3 linked regions of the Homo sapiens genome follow. The protein of the gene in region 3 interacts with the protein of the main gene of each other region in a biochemical or structural test. Each region holds a gene or a part of one and is shown on either strand. Other genes may lie near its edges.

Region 1 (7,761 bases), about 39 Mb from region 3:
CTGTCGCCCAAGCTGGAGTGCAGTGGCGCAATCTCAGCTGACTGTAAACTCCGCCTCCCGGGTTCAAGGGATTCTCCTGCCTCAGCCTCCCCAGTAGCTGGGATTACAGGCGCCCGCCACCACCCCCAGCTTTTTTTGTTTGTTTGTTTTTTTAGTAGAGACAGGGTTTCACCATGTTGGCCAGGCTGGTCTTGAACTCCTGACCTCGTGATCTGCCCACCTCAGCCTCCCAAAGTGCTGGGATTACAGGCGTGAGCCACCATGCCAGGCCTGCCTCTTTCCTACTTTTTGAGGGTAAAACTTGTTAAAACTCCAAATGATTCCAGGCTTTAACTTTTGGGCTTATGCATATCTGAAAATAGACCAAGAGGCCAATGACAATAATTGCTACCATTTTCTACCATGCGTCAGGCACTGTGCTGAGGGCTTTACGTGTACTTTCCAGTTTATTCCTCCCAAGTATCCACCAAGGTAGGTAGTTATTTCCATTTTACAGCTAGGTATACTGAGGCTTAGAGAGGTTAAGCTCTCCCCAGAGTGACAGTGACTCCACCATCGTCCCTCATCCTAACGCCAGCAACAGCCTAGCTGGCTCTCCATTGCCCCCTGCTGTGTATTCCCCTTCACACCCAGAGTAACTGGCTCACGGTTCCCTCCACAGCCCTCCAGCAGCTTCTACACCACTCTGAAAAATCCACGGGAAGTCCTGTGTGCCACGCCTCTCTGACTTCTCTGACACACCTATTTCTCTCTGTCCCCCACCCTACTCCACTCCAGTGGCCTCCTTCTGTCCTCCAACCTTTCAAATTTATTCCTTCCAGACTGTTCGTCTCCCTACTTGGCACACTCTCACCACCCCAGTCTTTGTTGTCCTTCAGGCCTCCACCCAAATGATGCTGCAAGGGGCCTCCCTGACCGCCCGGTCTAAACCAGCAAGGGCCATCACTCTCTTTCATAGTAGCACCCATCATTGTCTAAACACTCTGTGTTCACTTACTCCCTATAGTCTGTCATCTCCACTGGATGCACCCAAAGTTCCCTAAGGACAGGGATGTTGCCTTCCCAGCATCTAGAACACTGCCTGGTTCCAAGGAACATCCAAGGAAGTATTTACTGAAAGAAGTAAAAAGTGTGGGGAGAAGAGGAACCAGGATTTGAACCTATGTTGTTTGGGAGCCCAGGGCTCCAATGCATTAATTACATTGCCTTCTCAAGCGGCCAGGCCATGGCCTTGGAAGAATACAGCCCCAGCGGCAACCGTGCTTCCCCTGAGGAATAATGCCTGGAGGGAAACAGGAAGGAAACTTTTTAAAAACAGTATGTATTTCTATATTTATTTGAATTGTTGTCAGGTACGTGTACTGATTATAATTTACAAAATAATGCATGCAGGCCAGGCGCGGTGGCTCATGCCTGTAATCCTAGCACTTTGGGAGGCCGAGGGGGGGGGGGGTGGATCACCCGAGGTCAGGAGTTCGAGACCAGCCTGATCAATATGGTGAAATCCCCATCTCTACTAAATACAAAAAATTAGCTGGGCGTGGTGGCATGCACCTGTAATCCCAGCTACTCGGGAGGCTGAGGCAGGAGAATAGCTTGAATCCGGAAGGCAGAGGTTGCAGTGAGCAGAGATCGCACCACTGCACTCCAGCCTGGGCAACAAGAGCGAAACTCTGTCTCCAATAATAATAATAATAATAATAATAATAATACATGCAAAATTATGTGATTCTACCCCATCCAGGTCAAATATGTGATTCTGCCCCTTCTAGTTTAACACGCAGACGCATTACCTGCACACACCTTCCTCAGCTCCTAGATTTCTCCCTTCAGCTCACGATAGAGAACGTTATCACAGCCTCAAGCCATCTGCTATTACACAGAACCAAGCTAAGAGAAGGATTATTTGAAAAACATCAGGGCCAGGTGCAGTGGCTCACGCCTGTAATCCCAGCACTTTGGGAGGCCAAGGCGGGCAGATCACCTGAGGTCAAGAGTTTGAGACCAGCTTGGCTAACATGGTGAAACCCCGTTTCTACTAAAAATATTAAAAAATAGCTGTGTGTTATGGCACGCATCTGTAATCCCAGCTACTTGGGAAGCTGAGGCAGGAGAATCACTTGAACCCTGGAGTTGGAGGTTGCAGTGAGCCGAGATCGCGCCATTGCACTCCAGCTTGGGCAACAAAAGTGAAACTCGACCTCAAAAAAAAAAAAAAAAAAATCCTCTGAAGCAGTGCTTCTCCACCCAGTGAGACATCAAAATCACCCGGGAGCTTTCCAGAAATGCAGACCCCTGGTCCCTATCCCCAGGATCCTGATGGACTCGGTCCTGCATAGAAAATCCTGCAGGGCAATACGTGGCTACTGGTTGAAGTGACACCCCTTCAGCAATCTCTGCCTCTATTCTTGGACTACTTTAGGCTTGGACGGCCATGCCATCCACAGAATCACTACCCCTGGGTTGGTCTTTTGCATGAAACTCTCAACTTTAGTCAGGAGTGGCTACAAAAAATGCCCTTTTGCACTGTTTGGGATTTAACCACCATAACTCTTAGGGCCCTCTGCCTCAGCCTTACCCACTGGAGCACCTGAGAATCAGAGAAAGGAATAGTACCCCAGCAGGTGCCCCCAAAGGTTCATCTGTGCCAAACACATGAAGAAGGCAGAAGGCTGAGAGTCACCATTCTACATAGCAGGATCTCAGGAGCTTCAGTTAGGACTTAGGGCCAGGAAAATATGACTCCCTAAAAGAACTAAAATTATTTCTCCCTTATAATAAAGAAGTAGGTAATTGACAATTTCCTTTTTTGCCATGGCTATCAGGAAGCTCAGAGATCACATTTACCCTCACAGTTCATATACATTTCTCCAGTTTTCATCTTTGGCATTTAGATTCTTATTTTCCTACCCTCATTATTTACAAAGCTGCCTCAGATCTTTCCCATAGAGATAGGACATAAAGGCTGGGCGTAGTGGCTCATGCCTGTAATCTTAACACTGTGGGAGGCCAAGCTGGGCGGATCACCTGAGGTCAGGAGTTCGAGACCAGCCTGGCCAACAAAGCAAAACCCCATCTCTACTAAAAATACAAAAATTAGCCAGGAGTGGTGGCAGGCGCCTGTAATCCCAGCTATTCGAGAGGCTGAGGCAGGAGAACCGTGTGAACCCAGCAGGCAGAGGTTGCAGTGAGCCAAGATCGCACCACAGCACTCCAGCCTGAGCGAAAGAGCGAAACTCTGTCTCAAAAAAAAAAAAAAAAGGGTGGGGGGGGCGCATAAAGAAACCTAGCGTATATTCACACAGCAGTTCTTATCAGCAGAACTCTGTAAAGATCATTTCCAGGCCAGGCGCGGTGGCTCACGCCTGTAATCCCAGCACTTTGGGAGGCTGAGGCGGGTGGATAACAAGGTCAGGAGTTCAAGACCAGCCTGACCAACATGGTGAAACCCCATCTCTACTAAAAATACAAAATTAGCCAGGCATGGTGGCAGTAATCTGTAATCCCAGCTACTCAGGGGGCTGAGGCAGGAGAATCACTTGAACCAGGGTGGCAGAGATCACAGTGAGCCGAGATCGAGCCACTGCACTCCAGCCTGTGCGACAGAGCAAGACTCTGTCTCAAAAAAAAAAACAAAAAAACAAAAAAAATCATTTCCAGATCCTAGCTCTGTCCACAACTCCATGAACATGAATGAACGAAGTTTCCTCTCTATTTTCCTTTAAGGACTGTTGTGCTTCCCAACAGGACTGAGACAGCCCGGCAGGGATCAGAGCTGGACTAAGTCTGCAGGGCCCCAGACAAGTTCCAGCCTCCCCTTTCTGGCCTGTCATGACTTTGGACAGAGCTCCAGACCTTCCCAGGCTCAGTCTTCACCAACTCGGGTTCCTTGATTTGCCAGTTACCTCCCTGGCCCATTTTCCAGGCCACTAACCTCTCTGGCTTGGAGTGAAGAAGGATCTGACTCTGCTGCGCCCATCTCCCTCCACACCCAGGTCCCAAATAACCAGGCCACACACCAAGTTTCAAGTATCTGTCTCTTCCTTTCACTCTCTCAAAAGAAAAAAATAAATAAATTGCAGAAGGCGGCAGCATTTCCAGTCTTCCCTGGCTCCCGGACACCCGACCCCCGACCCCTGCCCCCCACCCTCCCTCCCGCATTTCCCACTCCCTAGACCCATCCCTCCCTTTTCCCCAAAAAAATTCCCAGGAAAAAAAAAAAAAAAAGCCACATTTAGACCTTCCACTCATGCAAACCGGCAAAGAAAAATGGTGGGGGCATGTGGAAGGCAGGGGCCCGCTGCGGAGTCCCCTGCTTCTCCCCCCAAAAAACCACCTTTGAGAAGAAAAAAAGTGGAAAAAATAAATGAGAAATCAAGGAACATGGGGAATTACGATGAGGGCAGGGGTGACCCCAGACCCTGCCTTAGGAGAGAGCGGAGGCCTGTGGCCCTGCATCCCTGCAGCGGGTGCTCCTCGAGGGGGCCCTGACTTCTGGAATGTGTGTGGGAGAGGATGGGGGAGGGCAGGTGGCCCCCGGTGGGTCTGTGTGTGCATTGGGGGCAGGTGGGGGCGGGGATCCTAAGGAGCAAGGGCTCGGAACAAGGAGCCCAGCTCCCCCCCAGACCCCAGGTTCCTGGCGTTCAGGAGCCCAGTTCTGGGGTGCGGGGATACATGCAGAGGAGTGTCCCCCCTCCAACAGGCTGGATCCAGTTAGAAAGGAAATAAATAAGAAGGGGTGGGAGGGAGGCCGGGGGGAGCCAAGGGCTTGGGCAATTCAGTCCAGACCAAGGGCCCAGGTGATGGAGGCAGGGCGAGTCCAGGCCAAGCCAGGGCAGGAATCAGAGTCTCTCTCGGGCTGGAACCCAGATGTAGGGGCCTGAGAGGTCCTCGATGACACGCTTCACCTTGTGGTAGATCTCCTCAAAGCTGTCACCCTCCACGATGGCTGGGAGTGGGGTGGAGCAGGGAGTGAGGCCAAGGAAGGGCCAGAGGACACCTGGCCAAGGGGGTTGCACCAGCCCAGAGGAAGGGGCACCTCTTTCCAACTCTCCAAGCCATAAGTCCTGGGGCTGCACCCGCCCACAGGGGCACCTCTTTTTTTTTTTTTTTTTTTTTTTTGAGATTGAGTTTTGCTCTTAGCGCCAGGCTGGAGTGCAGTGGTGCGATCTCGGCTCACTGCAACCTCTGCCTCCCAGGTTCAAGCGATTCTCCTGCCTCGGCCTACCGAGTAGCTGGGATTACAGGTGCCCGCCAGTGCTGGGATTACAGGCGTGAGCCACCATGCCGCGCCCACAGGGGCACCTCTTTCTAAGCCATCCACTGGGGGTGGCGGGGGAGCTCTTTCTAATCCGAGCAAGGGCACCCTACATGCTGGCAACAGCCTTGCTGTGGCCTCACCTGAGAAGCACTCTGTGAACTCCTGCTCCAGCTTGGTGGCTCTGTCGAAGGCTTTGCGGGCTTGCTCCTCTGTGATCCGCTTGTTAATCTCTCTGTGAAGAGGGAGGGAGAGCAGGCCTGAGACTGGACCCACCTGACCCTGCCTTTTATCTCCTCTATCCAGGAATGTTAAGTATTCTTCTATTTGGAGCACATAGCAAAAAAAAAAATACAATTCCCAATATCCTCTGGGGCCACAGATGAGAACCACCCCCCACCCCCCTGCCACCCGCAACCGCCCCAGCCAGGTGTGGCTACTCCAGGGACATCTACGGAGCTTCATCCTTCCAGCCTTCAGCCCCAGAGATGGGATTCGGACTCCAATTCCCAACAGCCCTAGAGGCCCTGACTCGCCCCAGCTGGTATGCCCCAGGGGCTGCTGGGAAATGTAGTCCTGTCTAGCCAAGGCAGGAGAGGAGGGGAAAGACCCGATTCCCCCACATCCTCTGGGTTCCAGGGATCCCCCTCAGGGGCTGCTGAAACCGCTGTCCAGGGTTCTGAAGGGAGAGTTGAACGCAGACGCCTTGTGAGGCCCAGGGCCACAGGTGTTGGGGGAGCAAAGGGGAGGCCCCCAGGACCATACTCACAGCACATTCTCCAGGGAGCGGGGGCGGATGAAGATGGCGATGGGGTGCAGGTGGGCCGCCTGCAGCCGCCGCACGGCATTGGCCGAGACATCGAGGATGCAGTGCTTCCCCTGGGGGCAGGCAGGGTGGGCGGAGGGGGGCCAGCGGGTGGCGAGAAAGGACAGAGAGCAGTGCCGGAGGGACACGGACGGGGAGAGGTGGGGAATGGGAAGTTGGCCGAAGGGGAGTGACATGGATGTCAAGAAACACGGGGGCAGAGAGTCAGGCAGGAAGCGGGTATGGACAGAGTAAAAGACAGAGGGAAAGGAAAGGGAAGATGGAGAGCACGGGAGAGGGCAGGGACAGGACAGAATGGAGGAAGGGAGGAGCACCAGGCAGGCAGGGACCCAAGAGATGGTGGCAGAGCCGGGGCAGCAGCGAGTGGGGCGGGGTGTGCAAGGCAGAGGTGACACAGGCGGGAAGGAAAGCCAAGAAAAAGGAGAAAGGAAGTAGGATAGAGGGAGGAGGGAGGGGAGGACGGACAGAGGACAGACAGATGGAAGGAACAAGGAGACAGATGGGAGGGAGTGAGGCAGATGGAGAAAGGAACCGTGGAGGGAGGGAGGGAGGGCAGGGTGAGGAGCAGCGGGGAAAGGAAAGGAGTTAGCAGAGGAGTGGGAGAGGGGAGCCGGGCCCCAGAAAAGGGTGAGGCAGGGGAGAGGGCCAGCGGGGAGTCAGGAAAAAGGGAGGGACCCAGTGGGGAAGGCCAAGCCACCAAAGACAAGGCCATGGGAAGAGAGGAGAAATGGGGCAAGGAGAAGGGAGTGGGGAGAGAAAGAGGCCAGATGGTGGTGGGGAATTTGGGGTCAGGAAGTGAGGGAGGTGGGAGAGAGAGCAGGGGCAGAGAGCAGGCAGTCAGACAGAGTTGCCCAAGAGGAGAAGGAGGTGGAGGAGCGGAGTGGAGACCCAGCAGGGAAAGAGACAGAGAGAGAGAGAGTTAGAGAAAGCTGGAGGGAGGCAGTGGGGTGGGGAGAGGGGAGAAGGAAGAGGACCGGGTGCCCGCCAGGTCCTACCTGCTCTGCCACCTCTCGCACGGACTGGACGCTGGTCCCATAGAGGTGGCTGTTGTACTGGCCGGCCTCAATGAACTTGTGCGCCTGAATGTCCTTCTCCATTTTCTCCCGGGACGACACAAAGTGGTAATCCCGGCCATCTATCTCATACTCCCGCTTGGGCCGTGTCGTATCTGCCAGGAAGTCACCCCACCCCCCAAAGATCTAACCACCATCCCTCTAGCTTAAATCCTGCCTACTTCAATCAAATCCCCATAGTGCCCAGCTGGTCCTTTGGTGAAAGGGAGCTGCCAGGGAGACCAAGACTGCAGAGGGCCAGAACCGCTTCCCCTAGCACCCTCCAGGGCCTCCAAGTCTCTGGCCTGGGCATGGGTACTATGGAATGAGAGGGTGGCTGAGAAGCACCCCTTCTCGGAGAAACCCTGTATCTCCCTACACACCGATCCCCCAGGAGGCTCTGCCTATGGCCCCAGGGATGGGCCTCCCCTGCCCCACCCCCACTTCCACCTTCTCCTCCATCCAAGGCCCCAGCACTCACGGGGAACACAGGATCCAAACTTGTCGGGGAACTCGGAGAGAAGATCATCGTTGGCGCGGTCCTTGGTGGGCCCAAGGATGATGATGGGGCGAGCATAGTGCACTGCAGAGAGAGCCTGGCTTAGGCCGAGCGCAGGGTTGGGGGA
Region 2 (7,820 bases), on a different chromosome or scaffold from region 3:
AAAAGATGGATAACACTCTGTATTGCTTAAGGTATGGTGAATTGGTCATTCTTCCACATACTTCCTAAAAAATAAATACAACATTCCTAAGAGTATTTAACAAATTACCTCAATAGCCTTAAAATGCACACTCCCTTTGACCAAACAATTCATTTCTAGGAGTTTGTCCTAAGAATATAGTAAAGAATTGAAACAAAAATGCATATGCAAATACAATATTTATAATTCACAAAAATTACAAACCTAAATGCTCCTAGGAAACCATTAAAAAAACTACAGAAAATCTATATAGGCCGGGTGCAGTGGCTCACACCTGTAATCCCAGCACTTTGGGAGCCTGAAGCAGGCAGATCAGGAGGTCAAGAGATCGAGACCATCCTGGCCAACATGGTGAAACCCTGTCTCTACTAAAAATGCAAAAACTAGCTAGGCGTGGTGGCGCACGCCTGTAATCCCAGCTACTCAGGAGGCTGAGGCAGGAGAATCACTTGAACCCAGGAGGCAGAGGTAGCAGTGAGCCGAGATTGCACCACTACACTCCAGCCTGGTGACAGATCAAGACTCCGTCTCAAAAAAAAAAAAAAAAAAAAGAAAAGAAAAGGAAAAAAAAAATCTATATACACAGTCACTTAAAATGGTACGAATCTGGCCAGGCACAGTGGTTCATGCATGTAATCCCAGCACTTCGAGAGGCTGAGGCGGGCGGATCACCTGAGGTCAGGAGTTCGAGACCAACCTGACCAACATGAAGAAACCCTGTCTGTATTAAAAATACAAAATTAGCCAGGCGTGGTGGCACATGCCTGTAATCCCAGCTATTCAGGAGGCTGAGGCAGGAGAATCGCTTGAACCTAGGAGGCGGAGGTTGTGGTGAGCTGAGATCAAGCCATTGCACTCCAGCCTGGGCAACAAGAGTGAAACTGTCTCAAAAAAAAAAAAAAAAAAAAAAAAATACATACATACATACATACATACATACATAAAATGGTAGAAATCTACTGACATGGAAAGACATTTGTCGATAAACTTTAGAAGATAAAAACAATATGTATAGTACAGAGAAATCATACTATTCACACTTATACAAATACAACTGCAGTATATCTCCCCTGCAAAAAAGGGCAACTCTGTCTACCCAATAAGTGACTGTCACAAATAAAAAAATGAGAAGGAAGAAGATTCTTCCTTTAGGTAGTCTGAGTTTTCATGTGCCTCTCAAAATGTGAGCTTCTTGCTATATCTCACTGTGCTGAGTGTGATTCTATAATTACGTGTTTTTAGTACAAGAAGTCAAACAAGCCAGTTGCTTCGTCTAGGGCTCAAGTGAAGAAATCATTCCTTTCCACTAGAGGAAAAAAAACAATTGTGCTGTAATTAACAAGAGCTAGTGTTAAATTTCTGAAGGCTTTTCAGGGATAATTTTAACTAGATGAGGTTTTTCACCTTACATGCTGATTTTAAGTATCAATTCTCACAAGGGAAATAACTGTTTTACTTAGAAGTTTGTTTTGCAAAATGAAGGTGGGGGGTGGCGTGTATACACGCGCATACACACACACACACACACACACACACAAATAACATTCCAGGATATTCATCCCATGGATGAAGTAGGAGGTAACCTCTGGTGTGAATATTTTCTTATGGTATTTTACATATAATAATCTGATCTCAAATGTTTTATATAGAACATGCATCATTTTTATAATAAATTTATTTTGGAGGGTTACAGGAAAGGCAACTAGAAAGCTGAAGAACACTGAAATATAACCCTACCATTTCAGAGGAAAAAAATTCTATCAGTTCATTTACTAAAAGCAAGTATGATTATTCAGACAATACCCAATTGAGTAATCAAAATTAACATCATCAGTGAAGGGCAGATGACATACTAAGATAATACCACAATAGTCAAATCTACTCAAGCACAAATACTCTTTCTTCTAAACCAATGTTCATTTAAAAAGTCATTTTTGACCCCTAGAAGAAAGAATATCCTATAAAATTTAAAAGTTTGTACTATTGTTTCACACACTAAAGAAAGGAAAGATGTCAAGCTAGTAGGCAAAAATAAATCACTTGAATACTTTAGATACTATTAGACTAAGAATCATACATGACTCACAAGCATATTCCATAAAACAAGGTGTGTACTAAAAGGAACCAGAGCTTCTCAGAGAAATGGCTGATTCCAGGGCTGGGGCAGGAGAGGTACAAGATAAACCTGGAACATCTTGTTATGCCAAAAATTAAGAAAGTGCTCCAAAAAATGATGAGGGCATCTCATAAGGACACAAGCTTGAAAGGGCCCCCACTGGATCACTCAGAGCACAAATGTCATTAAGGATGGTAATAAATGATAAGTCATTGAAAAAAAAACAGGTATCTGCAAGTTCATGAAAGACACGGGAAAAAAAGAAGGAAGGCTCTTGTTTAGAATAAAATGCAAAGTGTTAACTGGTAAACCTAGGAGTGTTACTGTTAGAAATCTTACTTTTCAACAACCATATTATAAACCGGTTCAAGAATCATCAATGGATGCTAAATATGGGTGGAAATTTTGCTAAGGAGTAGGATATGTACATGGTGTTAAAGTGTCTCCCCCACATATTGCCTATAAGCCACAAGGGGTAAAAAACAATGACTATAGGATACAGAATTCAGACAACACCCAACTAGGTAATCAAAATCAGTATCATCAACAAAGAGCAGATGACTCTGTGTACCTCTGGATGTACAGAATCCTAAGCCAGGAATACAAAACCTGAATCTAATCACAAGGAAACATCAGACAAACCCAAAATGAGAAAATTATATTAAAAAAAAGTAAGAGTGGAAGGAACTGCGTTTTTCAAAATCATCAATCTCAGCTGGGCGCAGTGGCTCACACCTGTAATCCCAGAACTTTGCTCAGGAGTTCGAGACCAGCCTGGGCAACACCTGTCTCTAGAAAAAGTTAGCCAGGCGTGGGGGCTCACACCTGTAGTCCCAGCTACTCAGGAGCCTGAGGCAGGAGGATTGCTTGAGCCTGGGAAGCAGAGGTTGCAGTAAGCCACCACTGCACTCCAGCCTGGGTGGCAGAGCAAGACCCTGTCTCCAAATAGTAAAAAAAAAAAAAAAAAAAAAAAAGTCAGTCTCACACAAGACAAAGAAAAGCTGTGGAAATGTGCCCTAAGTAAAGAGACGTGACAACTAACGGTAATATCTGGTCCAAGTCTGGATTCTGCACTGAGGAAAAATATGACCCTGCAGAGAGGAAATGGCTTAGAAGAAATATTTAGATGCCTTTACAACTCTGATTCCAAGGTTCTAAAGAGAATTCAGCCAGATTCAACATAATCAAAACACTGCTTCAGAGCAGTAGTAAGCAAACTATGAGCAAAGAACTCAATCTAATTGAATCAAAACCATCAAGTGAGAAGTTACTAAAATTCTCCATTTCAGGAAGTTTCAGCCAACGATGTGATCCATATCCTGTTTTCCTTACTCAAATCTAGCCTACAAAGTTACACACACACACACACACACACACACACACACACACACACAGTTAGCAAGAGACTAAAATGTAACATCAGTGGGACTAATATAATGCAAAAGAAATTTAAGAAATTTTGACATTTTACCACTATAGCTGGAAGATCTCAAACCCTGATTACTAAACACTGTTTTCAAAATGTGTGATTTCCATCATCATAAACATAATGCACCATTATAAATATTTTCCTTCAAAGTGACAATCATTTAAAGATTACTAACCCTAAAGATTGCTATCTGTCTTAAGCATGCTTGTCATTTAGTATTCTTTATCAGATTAAAATACTCAGTTCTGAAAAACAACGATAAAGAATATCCCAATGGTTGACGGTGAGAAGTATCTATGGATTCAGATTAGTTGAGTTCAATTTCTGGCTCCGCAATTTAGCATCTGAGGGTCCAAGGGCAAGATTGGTCATTTCTCAGTGCTTCAGTTTTCCAGTCTATAAAACAGTACAAACACCTCATACAGGTGAATGTACACCTCACAGGATTACAATGACTAAATGATATATTTGTATTAGCACATAGAAAGTGCTCAATAAATGTTGGTTATTATGTTTTACATACACTTGAAGAGGAGTCATATACTCACACTTATTAGGATGGCTATTATCAAAAAAAGAAAGGAAAAAAATTAAGTATCGGCAAGGATGTGGAGAAACTGGAAATCCTGTGTGCTGCTGGTGAGACTGTAAAATGCTGCAATCACTATGGAAAACATTATGGTGGGCCCTCAAAAAATTAAAAATGTAACTGCCGTATGATCCCACAATCCTATTTCTGGGTAAATATCCAAAAGAACTGAAAGCAGGGTCTTGAAGAAATATTTGCACACTCACATTCCTAACAGCATTATTCACAACAGCCAGGAGGAGGAAGCAACCCAACTGTCCATCAATGGATGGCTAGATAAAATGCGGTATATACATACAACGGAATATTATTCAGCCTGAAAAAGGAAGAAAATCCTGTCAACAACTACAACATGAATGAACCTTGCGGACTCTACACTGAGTGAAATAAGCCAGTCGCAAAAAGACAAATACTTCTATGAGGTTTCTAACATGATCAAATTCACTGAAACAGAAAGCAGCACGTTGGTCACAAGGGGCTGGGAAGTGAGAGGAAAGGGGAGCAGTTGTTTATTCGGTATAGGATTTCAGTTTTGCAAGACGAAAGTGTTCTGAAGATTTGTTTCACAACAATATGAATACATTTCACACTCCTGAACTGTACATTTAAAGATGGTGAAGATGGCAAAGGGGTCATACTTTTGAAACTAGTATCTACAAATAAAGATAGGGTAATGTCCTTTTATAAGGGCTAGTGAAACTATTAGATTTTAATAGAGTGGCAACAAATGAACTGGTAACTAAACTCATAAATGGACAGTATTATTACATAATCCACTTTCATTCTGAAATCTCTGCAGAAATAAAACACTGCATTAGAATAAGCTTATTTATTGCAGACAAAATATACAAATCACATGACTCAACTTACTCAAGTCTCTAAAGCCAGCCTAATCTTGGGCCCCAGTTTTTCTCATGCACAAGGAAAGCAGATGAGTTCTCTGATCCCGTAAGAAATAACTGCAGGGGTTTAGACTGGTATGAAGTCTCTATGGACTAGCAGTGTCATCTCAGATCCCACACACCTTAGAATCATGAATGAACTGAAACCACTATGGACCTGAATACCTGGGCTCTGATTATAATCAAACCATATCCCGTCTACTCAAAAAATTTTCAAACTTAAGCACAAAAAACTGGAATACAAAAGCAAGTTTTCAAATTGCTCTCACCTAAATCACAGAGTGAAATTAAGCAGACTTTATCTTCCTTTATACAAAAATAATCACCAGGTATGTTTTGGGAGTAAATTTTAAACAAATGTGCAGTTCATGGACTTTTGTTAAGATACAACTTTAAATATTTAGCTCTAAAGAAACAATACATCAGCTGAAATTCAAAATTAGTAAAAACTTTTCTGCTTTCAATAATTTTTAAATCTTTAAGCCATCCTTCAAAGATACTACCAAGTATCTATCAGCACTAGACCAATGATTTCTATATTACATTGCGAGTATCAATTATAAAATGCACTATTTCATGTGTCAGAACACAGAAACACTGTCAATTAAAAATGACATATACCAGATATTGAAATATTTAACAGTTGGTATTTTAGAACAAATATAATACAGTACGTACATGCTTGTCCCTCTGAATAATCCAAAAGTACAGGAACCTAATCTATGTATCAACTACAGGGGGGGACACCAAACCCCTAGAGACTCAAACTTTTTTAAATGCATGAAAAGTCAATATAAACTACCAGTTCAAAGAATCAATCAATAAATGATCAATGCAGACTGAAAATCCAAAGACACTTGGCACCCCAAACAGATAACTAGATAACTCACTGCGGCCTAAACAAGTGATTTCCAAATTAAGGAAGTGAAAAATCTAAGCACTCAATGACTCCAAACAGCTCAGGTGGCCAAGACCCCTGTTCTCCTTTAATCCAGTGGTCCACAGGTACCAACTCAGAAGACAGAGTGCCACTTACTGAGAGAAAAAACCTTTCAGTAAGTGGCACTCTGTCTTCTGAGTCGGATTTTTCTGCAAACACTATGGACACAATGAACTGGTTTAGCTTAGGGCAGTTTACAAGCTTAAAGTACATTTATGACACTGTTTCAAAACAATGGTAGAGTTGCAAAATACAAAGAAAATCTTATCAGACTAAACATTTTCAGACTAAGTATTAAAAGTTATTCAGGAAACACAAGAGAATGTATTTATTCCGTAGTATCAACAATTATAGCATGGAAACACACAGAACCTCTATTAAACGTTATCTATTTCAAAACTCCTAAAATCTATTACTTGTCTTACACCAAAATGTGATATAGTACCACATCCTATAGAACATTAAATATAAGTAAATTTAAATGTCAAAGTAAATTCACAACCAATGAAATTAGAAGATTCACAAATATAAACTTAGTAATTAGGAAGCTAACTCTAGGCCAGACGCGGTGGCTCACGCCTGTAATCCCAACATTTTGGGAGGCCGAGGTGGGTGGATCACGAGGTCAGGAGATCGAGACCATCCTGGCTTACACAGTGAAACCCCGTCTTTACTAAAAATACAATACAAAAAATAAAAAATTAGCCGGACGTGGTGGTGGGCACCTTTGGTCCCAGCTACTCAGGAGGCTGAGGCAGGAGAATGGCGTGAACCTGGCAGGCGGAGCTTGCAGTGAGCGGAGATCTCGCCACTGCACTCCAGCCTGGGTGACAGAGTGAGACTCTGCCTCAAAAAAAAAAAAAAAAAAAAAGAGAAGAAAGCTAACTCTATCAAAGTTCAATTGTACGTAAGAATAGACACATTCAAAACAGGCAAGGCAGAATAGGTCAAAAATGTCTCTGAACACAGCAAACCCATCCCCAATCTAGACAGAAATATAAATGTAGATTCTGTTATTTCACTAACGATTTAATTTTCTTAAGTTACAGCCATCACACAAAGAAAAGTCTGCAGTCTATCTATCTGCCTATCTATACATATATGTATATATATATCTCTATACTGTTGCGAAAAAACATACTTTTTTTGCAACAGTAACTGCACCAAATTACTAGGCTCAATGTTGATTTAGAAAACAAATAACTAAAAAATGCTTTTTGCTGTTTTTCCAGAGGAATCCAATTTGATCATCCATTCGGACCTTAAACCTCAGAAATTCAAATGTGTAAAAAATGTCCATCAATGTAAACAAAAATGGCAAAATGTGAATTTCTGGAGCTGGGTAACAGTTAAAAGGCAGTTCATTACACTGTGCTATGTATCCTTATGTTTTTAAAAGTCTATTAAAATGTTACATTTTTCAAAATTGTTCAGGTGCATCAAGTGGTCTTTACAAAAATCTTTCATTCTAAAACCGTAGAGAGCATCCATTTATCAATAATGTACCTGACAGGACACACTGACTTGAAAGTAGTCTTCAAATCACACCAACAATTATTCTATCAACAGATAGATGTAAGGCCATATCTGACTGGAAGTTACTGAAGAAATAAATGTAATATAATTAAGTATATGTCTTCTTATGTTAAAATGTTATATAGTTGATAACTAAAACAAAAAAAAAAAACTTCATTCTTAGAATTGGAAGAGACAAACTTTCTAGTTCGGTGGTTTGCAAACTTTTTGAGGTACCTGGACAAAAGAGCCAGACAAGTCACCTTGTTTTATACATAGGAGATTATACA
Region 3 (8,641 bases):
TGTGCGACCTTGGATCAGTCAGTCTCCCACCTCCTGGCCTCAGTCTGAAGGCAGCGGACTGGTGGAAACGACCTTTCCTGGCCAGCTGGGCAGATGGGAACTCCTTCCCCTGACTCACTCTGTCCTGGCCCTGCTGGGTCAGCTCCTCCAGATCTCCTCCTGCAGGGGGTGCACAGGAGATGCAGGAAGGTCTGCCTGCTGATGCAGCCAAAGTTGAGGAATGAGGCAGCCCAGAAAGAGCTTGAACAGCAGCCTCTTCCCAGAGTCAGCGAGCTGAGCTCACCCAGCTGAGGCTCCACCAGAGCCTCTCCAGGGCCGGCACCTCAGAGGCAGGAGGCAGAGCCGGGTCCTGGGCCCTGGGCCCTGGAGAAGTGGGATTCCTTTACCTTGGATGAGTGCGGGGACAAGGGGTAGAACAGCATGGGGCTAAGTCCTGTGAGCTTTGGGGAACCCACACAGAGCAAGGCTGCCCTTGCCCCACTAGGGGCTGCGACCACTGATCATGGGTCCTCAGCTCACCTTGTCACCAAGTGCAGATTGATGAGTGTGACAAGGAGGGGGAAGGGGCCTGCTCAGAACCCGCCACTGGGTAAGGGGTCTGAGTAAACCAAAGAGTTTCCTCCTCCTGGACAAGGGTTCTTCCTTCTTCCGTCGCCCAGCCTTGGCTGCCAGAAAGAGCCACTACATCACTCACATCCATGCAATGGAGACACACAAGTGCAAGAAGCATGGCAGGAGGGGCAGGCTGTGTGAAGGGTGAACCAGAGATCTGGGCCAGGCAGTGAATTCTGGCCCCAAAGGAGGGCTTTAGGCCCGTGCTATTCAAAGGGTGGTGAGGACTGGTCCGACTGGTCAAGTTTGCCAACCTACCAACAATTGGTTCCTGGTCTACAACTTGAGAAGTACAAAACTGGAGAGTAAGCATTTCATGTGAATCCATCCCTGCGGTGACATCCGAGCATGCAGTCAAGACTCATCTCGTCAAACAGGGTCTAGACCAATTCAGATGCTGTCAGACTTGCCAGGTGAATCACGTGGTGCAGGCTACACAGCAGGACCACACGCCAGTTGGCCATGGATTGGAAAAATCCATGTGGTCCTTCCCCACAGCTGGTTTGAGAGCCCTGCTTTGGCTGGAGGACAGAGTGTGATGCCTGGCTCACCAGGGAAGGCCTCATGGAGGAGGCGGGTCTTGAGTGATAGTTGGGCTTAGTTCTGAGGGGAGTCCTGGGGTGGGACTCCCACCCATGAAAACAGCAGGTCTCACTGGCCTTTGGTGGGAGCAGGCCCCTTGCAGCAGCACAGGCATTTCCTCTTTCATTCTGCATTGTGGTCGGTCCAGTAAAGAGGACACAAGGGTCCAGAGAGGTCATGTGATTTGCCTAAGGTCACCCATCCAAGAAGTGGCTGAGTCAGCTCCAACCCCAGGTCTCCTGCCCTGTCAGCTTTAGGGACAGTGGTCCTTCCTCCAGGGTGCATGTGAGCCCCACCACTCCTAGGCCCCCCTGCCCTGCATTTCACAGCCTTGCAGCAGCTTCCACAGTCAGGCCATGAGGCCCCAGCCATCAGGAGAGAAAAGACGCCCCAGGCTGCACCCCCACACCGACTCACAGGGAGCTGGAGGGGTGGGATGCCAACGGACGGGATCTCACGAAGGTACCAGGAATGCCAGTGCTCTTGGCGCCCCTGCCTTGCCTGGCTACTCCTGCCTCATGACCAGCAGAACCAGGACAGCACCAGGGAGGGAACCCCAGGATGCCACCTAGGCCGCCTCCCCAGTCCCCATTTGGAGGCTAGAGTGCCCTGACCCTGCTCTCTGGAGGCCCCAGCTTCTGAGACCTTCTTGCCCCTTTGTTTCTAAGCCCAGGGCCACAATTCCCTCTAGCAACATCTCCCACCATCCCTGTCCAGAACCGCTCATGAAGCAACATGCTGCCCTTGCGTGCACGTGGACAACGCCCCCAGTGCTATGGGGACCGGAGGCGGAACACAGGGCAGTGCTGGAATCTTTTAATGTTACTAAGCCGCGCTGCCGCGTAGCCCTTGATAAGCCGTTGAGTCACAAATCCACACGCGGAGGCAGAGAGGGACCTATCTGTCTGGCTTGCCACTTGTGTCTTCTGTCGCCATAGCACTTCCACACTCAGACAGACGTTCATTGGGGAGTGGGAGCAGGGAGAGACCCTCCATTTAGTTCAGCATCTACTGTGCACCTACTGTGTGCACAGTTCTGGACTAAGTTCTGGGCACACAGAGGTTTTGTTATTTTTTTGTTTTGTTTTGTTTTGTAAGGGAATCTTTCTGGTCTAGGCAGAGCTCATAGTCTACGGTGGGAACAAGGGCTCAGGTTAGATGTGGGTCACCAGGGGTCCATGTGGAATCTGGTTAGTAGGTGTTTTTGAGCCCCCTGTGGGGGGATACATCAAAGAGCTGTAAGACCCCATGTTGTGGGACAGCCCAGGATCCACGATGAGCTAGAGGCTCACACCAGGGGACGGGATGAGGTGAGAACAAAGGAACAACCAGTGAGAGACAGATTTAGACTGGAGGGCTTCCTGGAGGAGGAGGTGGGGCCAGTTCAGGAAGACTTTGGTGGACATGACAGATGAAGATTGGCACAGAAAGACTTGGGGGCAGAAGCTCCTGTAAGAGAAGTGTCATATATGTATATTCTGCTGGGTAGGGGTTGGCAGGGGAGGAAGGAGAACAGTGCGACTCAGGCAGAGGGCCAGGAGTGAGGAGCAAGAGATTAGGGGAGCATCAGGTTCTTTCCCCTCTAGAAGGGGATGGGAGGACTCAATGGGGTCACTTGTGTGGGCCTTAGTGCAACAGCAGCTCAGTAAATGGCGCACCTGGCCAGTAAACAGTGTACCTGCTTAAAAGAACCTGGGAGGCGTAGGCAAGGGACAGGAGCAGAGTTGGCAGAAAGAGGAAGGGGAAGGGCGTGGCTTAGACCAAGACCAAGCCCAGGACGCAAGGACCAGCCTCCCTCCAAGGACCAGCCTTGCCCTACCCGTCTGGGAAGATGAAGGAGTGGCTGAGTCTCTCGGGCTCCCAGCCAGGCACGGGCAGCTGAGGGATGCCGGGGAGGCTGTCTAACCTGCTAGTCACTCACCCAGCTAAGCCCGTGGTCCCCAGGTGCCCAGCTGCTCCTCTGGAAGTCAGCCTCTAACCCTGGCCTTGAGGTGGCATTGCACACCTGCCGTACAGGTCTGGCTATGCTCAGAGGAGAGGTGGTGACCACACAGTGGCTTCTGAGGGAGGTGGCAGGTGCGGGTGTTACAAACACTGCAAAGTAGCTCACTCGCCAGGGTACCAGCGTGTGTGTGTGTGTGTGTGTGTGTGTGTGTGTGAGAGAGAGAGAGAGAGAGAAAGAGAGAGAGAGAAAAAAATGCCCACTGAGAAACACACAGGCCCACAGAGGCAACAGATCCTGTCCCTTCTGCACCCTGCTTCTGGGGAGGAGGAGCAGCCCTGGGGGTGGTGGAAGGGATCATGGCGGGAGCTCATCTGGGGCATCTCTGCGCCGAAGGCTCTCCTAACAGCTGAGGACGGCTTCGGGCACCCAGGCACCAGGATAGGGATGGGTGGAGGAATTCTTGTGAGAAACAGAGAGGAAGTTTCCAGGAGATGCCACCGCTGGCCTCAGAACCCGGGCATAGGCTCTCTTGGATGCTAGGGAGAAAGTTAAAAGCAAGAATGACCAAGGCAGGCAGGCAGGTCTTTTTCTTCTCCCTCCCCTTTTGCTTCTCTCACTGTCTGTCTGTCTCCGCATCTTCCGTAAGAGTGAAATCATCCACCCTGAGCGAGCCCTTGGGCACCCTGCCAGGCCCGTGCTCTGAGTGCAGTTGGGTCCCCAGTGCAGGGGGCCTGGACCTGTAAGGACTGTGCCTCAGATGGCCCTGGACTCTCCTAAAGCCCTTTCCCCAGGGTAAAACCCCGCCTGGACCCGGTTTGCTTTTCCAGCCCACCCAGCCCAGCCCCTTGTCCCCCAGCCACACTCCTTTTCCCTGTCTCTGTGCACAGGCTCCCCACCCAGCCTGGTACCTCTGGCCTCTGCTGAGCTAGGAAGGGCTTTCTAGAAATGAGCCCTTCACACACCTTGCCAAAGAGGCTGGGAAAACAGGGAGGGAGAGGTGGATGGATCACAGAGGGAGGGCACTCCCCACTGGAAATGGCAATGCTGCGGCCATCACTTGTCCCAGCCTTTCACCCTGGGCAGGTGCCTTTCAGCTCTGTGGGCTTTGGTACTGACCAGGGATGATGACCAATATATTGTCCCAATTCTCCTAAAGCCCCTGACATCCCAGCACTCAAAGGTTCAACTAAGATTCTCACTGTGCTTCCTGATAGCCCCCACTACCTCTTAAAACTCCAGTGGGTAGACTCTAAAGTATAGCGGTCAGTCTAGAACAAGCCCTGCCTCCCTGGTTCTGCAGCCACGAAGTGACTGGACCAGTCTAGCCAGTTTTTCTGGGCTCTGACCTAGGCGCACTGGCTCCCAACCAGACTGGCTGGGGCTTGGAAACCAGCTGACATGCGGAGGGGGGCAGATGCACACCCCACAAATCCCATCTCAAAGCACCTCGCTGAGGCTTCTCTCTGGGCCCAACAGTGCCAGGCGGGTGAGATGGACAAATTGCCTGTGCTTATAGGGCAGAAAGAACAGCCGCAAACATCTTCATTTGTCCCAGAAACAGTTTTATGGCTGCTGGGTGGACAGTTGCCAAAGAACATGTTTGGCTAAAGCATTTGAATCCGCAGTTCTACGTGAAGGGGAACCCGTCTTCCAAAGCCAGATTCTGACATGCCTGTTTCATGAAGTCTGCCTCCCTCCCTTCCTGCCATCCATTCAATTTTGTGGAAGCGGATACCACATACTCAGAAAACAAGTGATTAAGAATCTGTTGTCTAATAGAATCCAGCTAGTTATTTTCAAAATGATTGTTTGCATCAGTGAGTGAATCATTTCGTATTATCCTCCCTACATATCTACTTTTACTGTCAGGTTTTTCCATATCCCAGATGTTCAGGTCTGTCTATGACCTTCAAGCTCAGCTGATGGCTGGTAGCTGATCCCTTTTCCCCAGGGACTGTGAAAAGTGCTCTGACGCAGGAAGAGATTCTATACGCCAAATACCCTTCCTCTACCCCCATCCCCTCACCACTTCTCCTTTTGATGGCCTTTCTTAGACTGAGGAAGTTGGTAAGATTTATTAAGTGACTACTATAGCTAATATTTATTATGCACTTACTGTGTGCCAGACACTGTGCAACTGTGCATAATTTCACACCTGGCATCTCATGGTCATTATGATTATGCCATAAAGCAGGTATTATTTCCCCCGCTTTAGACAGATGAAGAGGTGACTTGCCCACAGCTTCAGGGCAGAGTAAGGATTCAAGCCCACATTTGCTTCATCTGCTGTTCCCACCCATACAAGAAGATGTTGACTGCCACACTGGGTGGGGTAAGGGATGGCTGGCCTAGAGCAACAAGTCCAAAGACAAGCATTTTAAAAGGATGAAGGCTGGGCACTGTGGCTTACGCCTGTAACCCTACACTTTGGGAGGCTGAGGTGGGAGGATCGCTTGAGCCCAGGAGTTTGAGAATTCGAGACCAGCCTGGGCAATACGGCAAGACCGTTTCTACAAAAAAATTTAAAATTAGCTAGGTGTGGTGATGCACACCTATAGTCCCAGCTACTTGGGAGGCTGAGGTGGGAGGATCACTTGAGCCCACAAGGTTGACGCTGCAGTGAGCTGTGTTCACACCACTGCACTCCAGCCTGGGCAACAGAGTGAGACCCTGTCTCCAAAAAAAAAAAAAAAATTCCTAGGGACTCTGCTGACAGGGACCTCCCTGAATTTAGGTAGACAAGAATGATTTGTAGTTAACAAATTCATTGTTTGACTATTAAAACTGCAGCTGAAATCTCGACCTGGCCTTACGTTCAAAATGGGCTCACCCTTCTTTGGTTGATACCGTGAGCAGTTAGGGTAGAATCAGAGCTGGGAGAGATCACCCTACTCCCTCTTTTCACTGAGGAAGAAACGGCCCAGATCACTGTTAGTGACCTGCCCTCCTCCAGACACGGCAAAAGCGCTGGAGTTTCACTGGCTGAGGCTCTACCCTCAAGGGATTCTCCAGATCACTGGGGTGCTGCACTGGTTGTGTGTTGTTTTCTCTTTTTTAATAACCACAGTGGGCTTAAGGGGGAGTTCTAGTCCTTTCTGCATCAGAGATGGCTTTTCTGCTAGGGTGGTTTAAGCATCTCTCAGCCTTCTGTTTCGACCTGACATCTGCATCTGGTGGGAACAGAAACGGGTTCTTTCCAATTGTACAATACCAAATGGAAGAAGCAACAATAAACTCATCCATGAAGTCGACAAACATTTGTTAAACACCTACTCTGTGCAACGGATTGTGAGGCTCAGTGCCGTGAAGGGTAAAAGATGCAAAAAATATATAATATATTGCATGTCCAAGAGCTGCTAGTTGCTGTTCCTGCATTAACTTATATCTGCTGAGAGTAGCCACCTTGCAGCTTTTTCTGAAAGCAGACTGTGCCAGGCACTGTTCCAGGCACTTTCCATGTATTAATTCCTTTTGTCCTTACCTCAACCTCCTGAGTTAGGCATTTCCCCCATTTTATAGCTGGGGACACTGAAGCCCAGAGAGAGTACTTAGGTCCAAGTACCATGTTCCAAGGTCCCTCAGCTTGAGCAGAGCTGGGAAGGGGGAGTGCTGGGAATCCAGTTCGTGGCACCCCCCTCTTTCTATGTGAGGTCATGTCCCTAAGGAGTATTTGAAAACACAGACCTTTCACAGAGACATGAGAGATAACAGAGAATCCAGTCCAATACCCCTGTTTACAGACAGATAAACTGTGGCTCAGAGAGGGAAGGTGACCTACCTGTCATCACACAGCTGATTGGAGGCAGAGCTGGGATCAGAGTCAGGTTCACTGACTCCCAGGCTGATGGTCTTTCCCCTTCAATAGCTGCTGAAATTATCAGCCCGGCACCTAACTGCTTCCTTCTAGGCCACACGGGCACTTGGGGTGGTGGCACCTTGACCCCCAAACTCCTTATGTGTGGCTGAACCTGGAGGTTGATGCTTTTGAGGAGCCAAATGTTAGAGAGGGTGAGAAATGGATTTTCCACTTGAGCTCGTCCTCACTGGCTCTGGGTGAGTGTTCAACTTTTCCATAATCTACACACTCCTCTCTATGGCTGGTCATTTCAAATCCAAGGGGCTTGGCCTGGCTTTTGGCCCCTCCCTGTCTTTGCCCCCAGTCTGTGGCCAGGCCAGCAGTCCCGCACGCCACAGCAGCCCACTGGCCCACCCTGGGCTCACTGTTTCGCGTTCCTCATGCCTCTTGCCAACGCTCCCCTCGAAAACCTGGCTCTATATCGTTTAATCAAAGAAACAACTTGGAAATGGCCCAGATATGCACCGATATAGGGATGGCAAAGTCCATTCACTCACAGGCAACATGCAGACATTGACAGTCTCCTGCAGAGCCTCGGGAGTAACGTGAAACAGACTTGGGCTGTGACACTGAGGAGAGGGCTGCCCAATGGCCACAGCTGTGCCCAGACAGGTGCTTGAGAAGGGGACCTGTGGGGGTTATTTTTTAAATGAATTATACAGTAGCCAGATTAAAAGAGTGAGGTTGCAATCATTTTCCATTCTGGTTTTCAAACTTTGCCTATTGCTGCTAAATTGGCTTATATAAGAATAACAATAGCCAGCTCCCTCCTGGGAGCTCACTCTCCTGTTAGAATCCATCCAGAGGCCTTGCCTTCTGCACCCCTCACAGACACTGGGACCCATGTTTACAGCCACACTCCATCTCCCTACGAGGAGATGCAGTGGGTGTGTGGCTGACTCCGAGGTGCTCAGGCCCCTGCCCCTCCCTGGGGATAGAGACAATGTCTTGTCTGTCTTCTCCTGACTCATGGCCACTTGTACACACATCGTCTCTCCCCACTCACACACACACTTTCACACACCCTGTCTCTCCCCATTCACACACATTTTCCCCCAGGACTCTGTAACTGTTATAGTGTGAGGCCCACAATATAGGCCCCAGAGTGGACCCTTTCCCAACACTGGCTGACTTGTTGGGGATGGAGCTGGATTTGGGATTAACCCTAAATCCCCTAGATTTGTACTCTCATGCTGACAAAACTACCTGAGCTCTCATCTGGCTGAGCTCTAGAGTGAGATTTAGGTGGCTTCGAATATTTTCTGGTAATGGCCGGGCATGGTGGCTCATGCCTGTAATCCTAGCACTTTGGGAGGCCGAGGCTGGCTGATCGCTTGAGCCCAGGAGTTTGAGACCAGCCAGGGCAATATGGGGAAACCCCATCTCTACAAAAAATACAAAGATTAGCTGGGTGTGGTGGTGCATGCCTGTGGTCCCAGCTATTCTGGAGGCTGGGGTGGGAGGATCACCAGAGCCTAGGGAGGTTGAGGCTTCAGTGAGCCATGATCACACCATTACACTCCAACCTGGGCGACAGAGTGGGACCCTGTCTTGAAAAAAAAAAAAAAAAAAAAGGATATTTTCTGGTAAAAGCAAACAAAACAAAGCCTTTTATCAGAGTGTCTGGGTTTGAATTCTGACTTCAC

What was found. Proteins that work in one complex are often made in the same cells at the same time.
Region 1: the proteins of CRHR1 (region 3) and DLG4 form a complex in vitro, tested with the Homo sapiens proteins (2 studies listed by BioGRID and IntAct, with this or other methods).
Region 2: the proteins of CRHR1 (region 3) and DLG1 form a complex in vitro, tested with the Homo sapiens proteins (3 studies listed by BioGRID and IntAct, with this or other methods).

Annotation. Positions count from the first base shown.
Region 1 is NC_000017.11:7,185,867-7,193,627, forward strand, and holds the end of DLG4 (disks large homolog 4), read right to left. Parts: intron 7,719-7,761; coding exon 7,617-7,718; intron 7,252-7,616; coding exon 7,079-7,251; intron 6,137-7,078; coding exon 6,027-6,136; intron 5,493-6,026; coding exon 5,401-5,492; intron 4,949-5,400; coding exon 4,842-4,948; 3' UTR 1,321-4,841; downstream 1-1,320. UniProt on the Homo sapiens protein: Postsynaptic scaffolding protein that plays a critical role in synaptogenesis and synaptic plasticity by providing a platform for the postsynaptic clustering of crucial synaptic proteins.
Region 2 is NC_000003.12:197,287,793-197,295,612, forward strand, and holds part of DLG1 (disks large homolog 1), read right to left. Parts: intron 6,157-7,820; exon of another isoform or gene 6,086-6,156; intron 1-6,085. UniProt on the Homo sapiens protein: Essential multidomain scaffolding protein required for normal development. Recruits channels, receptors and signaling molecules to discrete plasma membrane domains in polarized cells.
Region 3 is NC_000017.11:45,786,565-45,795,205, reverse strand, and holds part of CRHR1 (corticotropin-releasing factor receptor 1 isoform 2 precursor), read right to left. Parts: intron 1-8,641.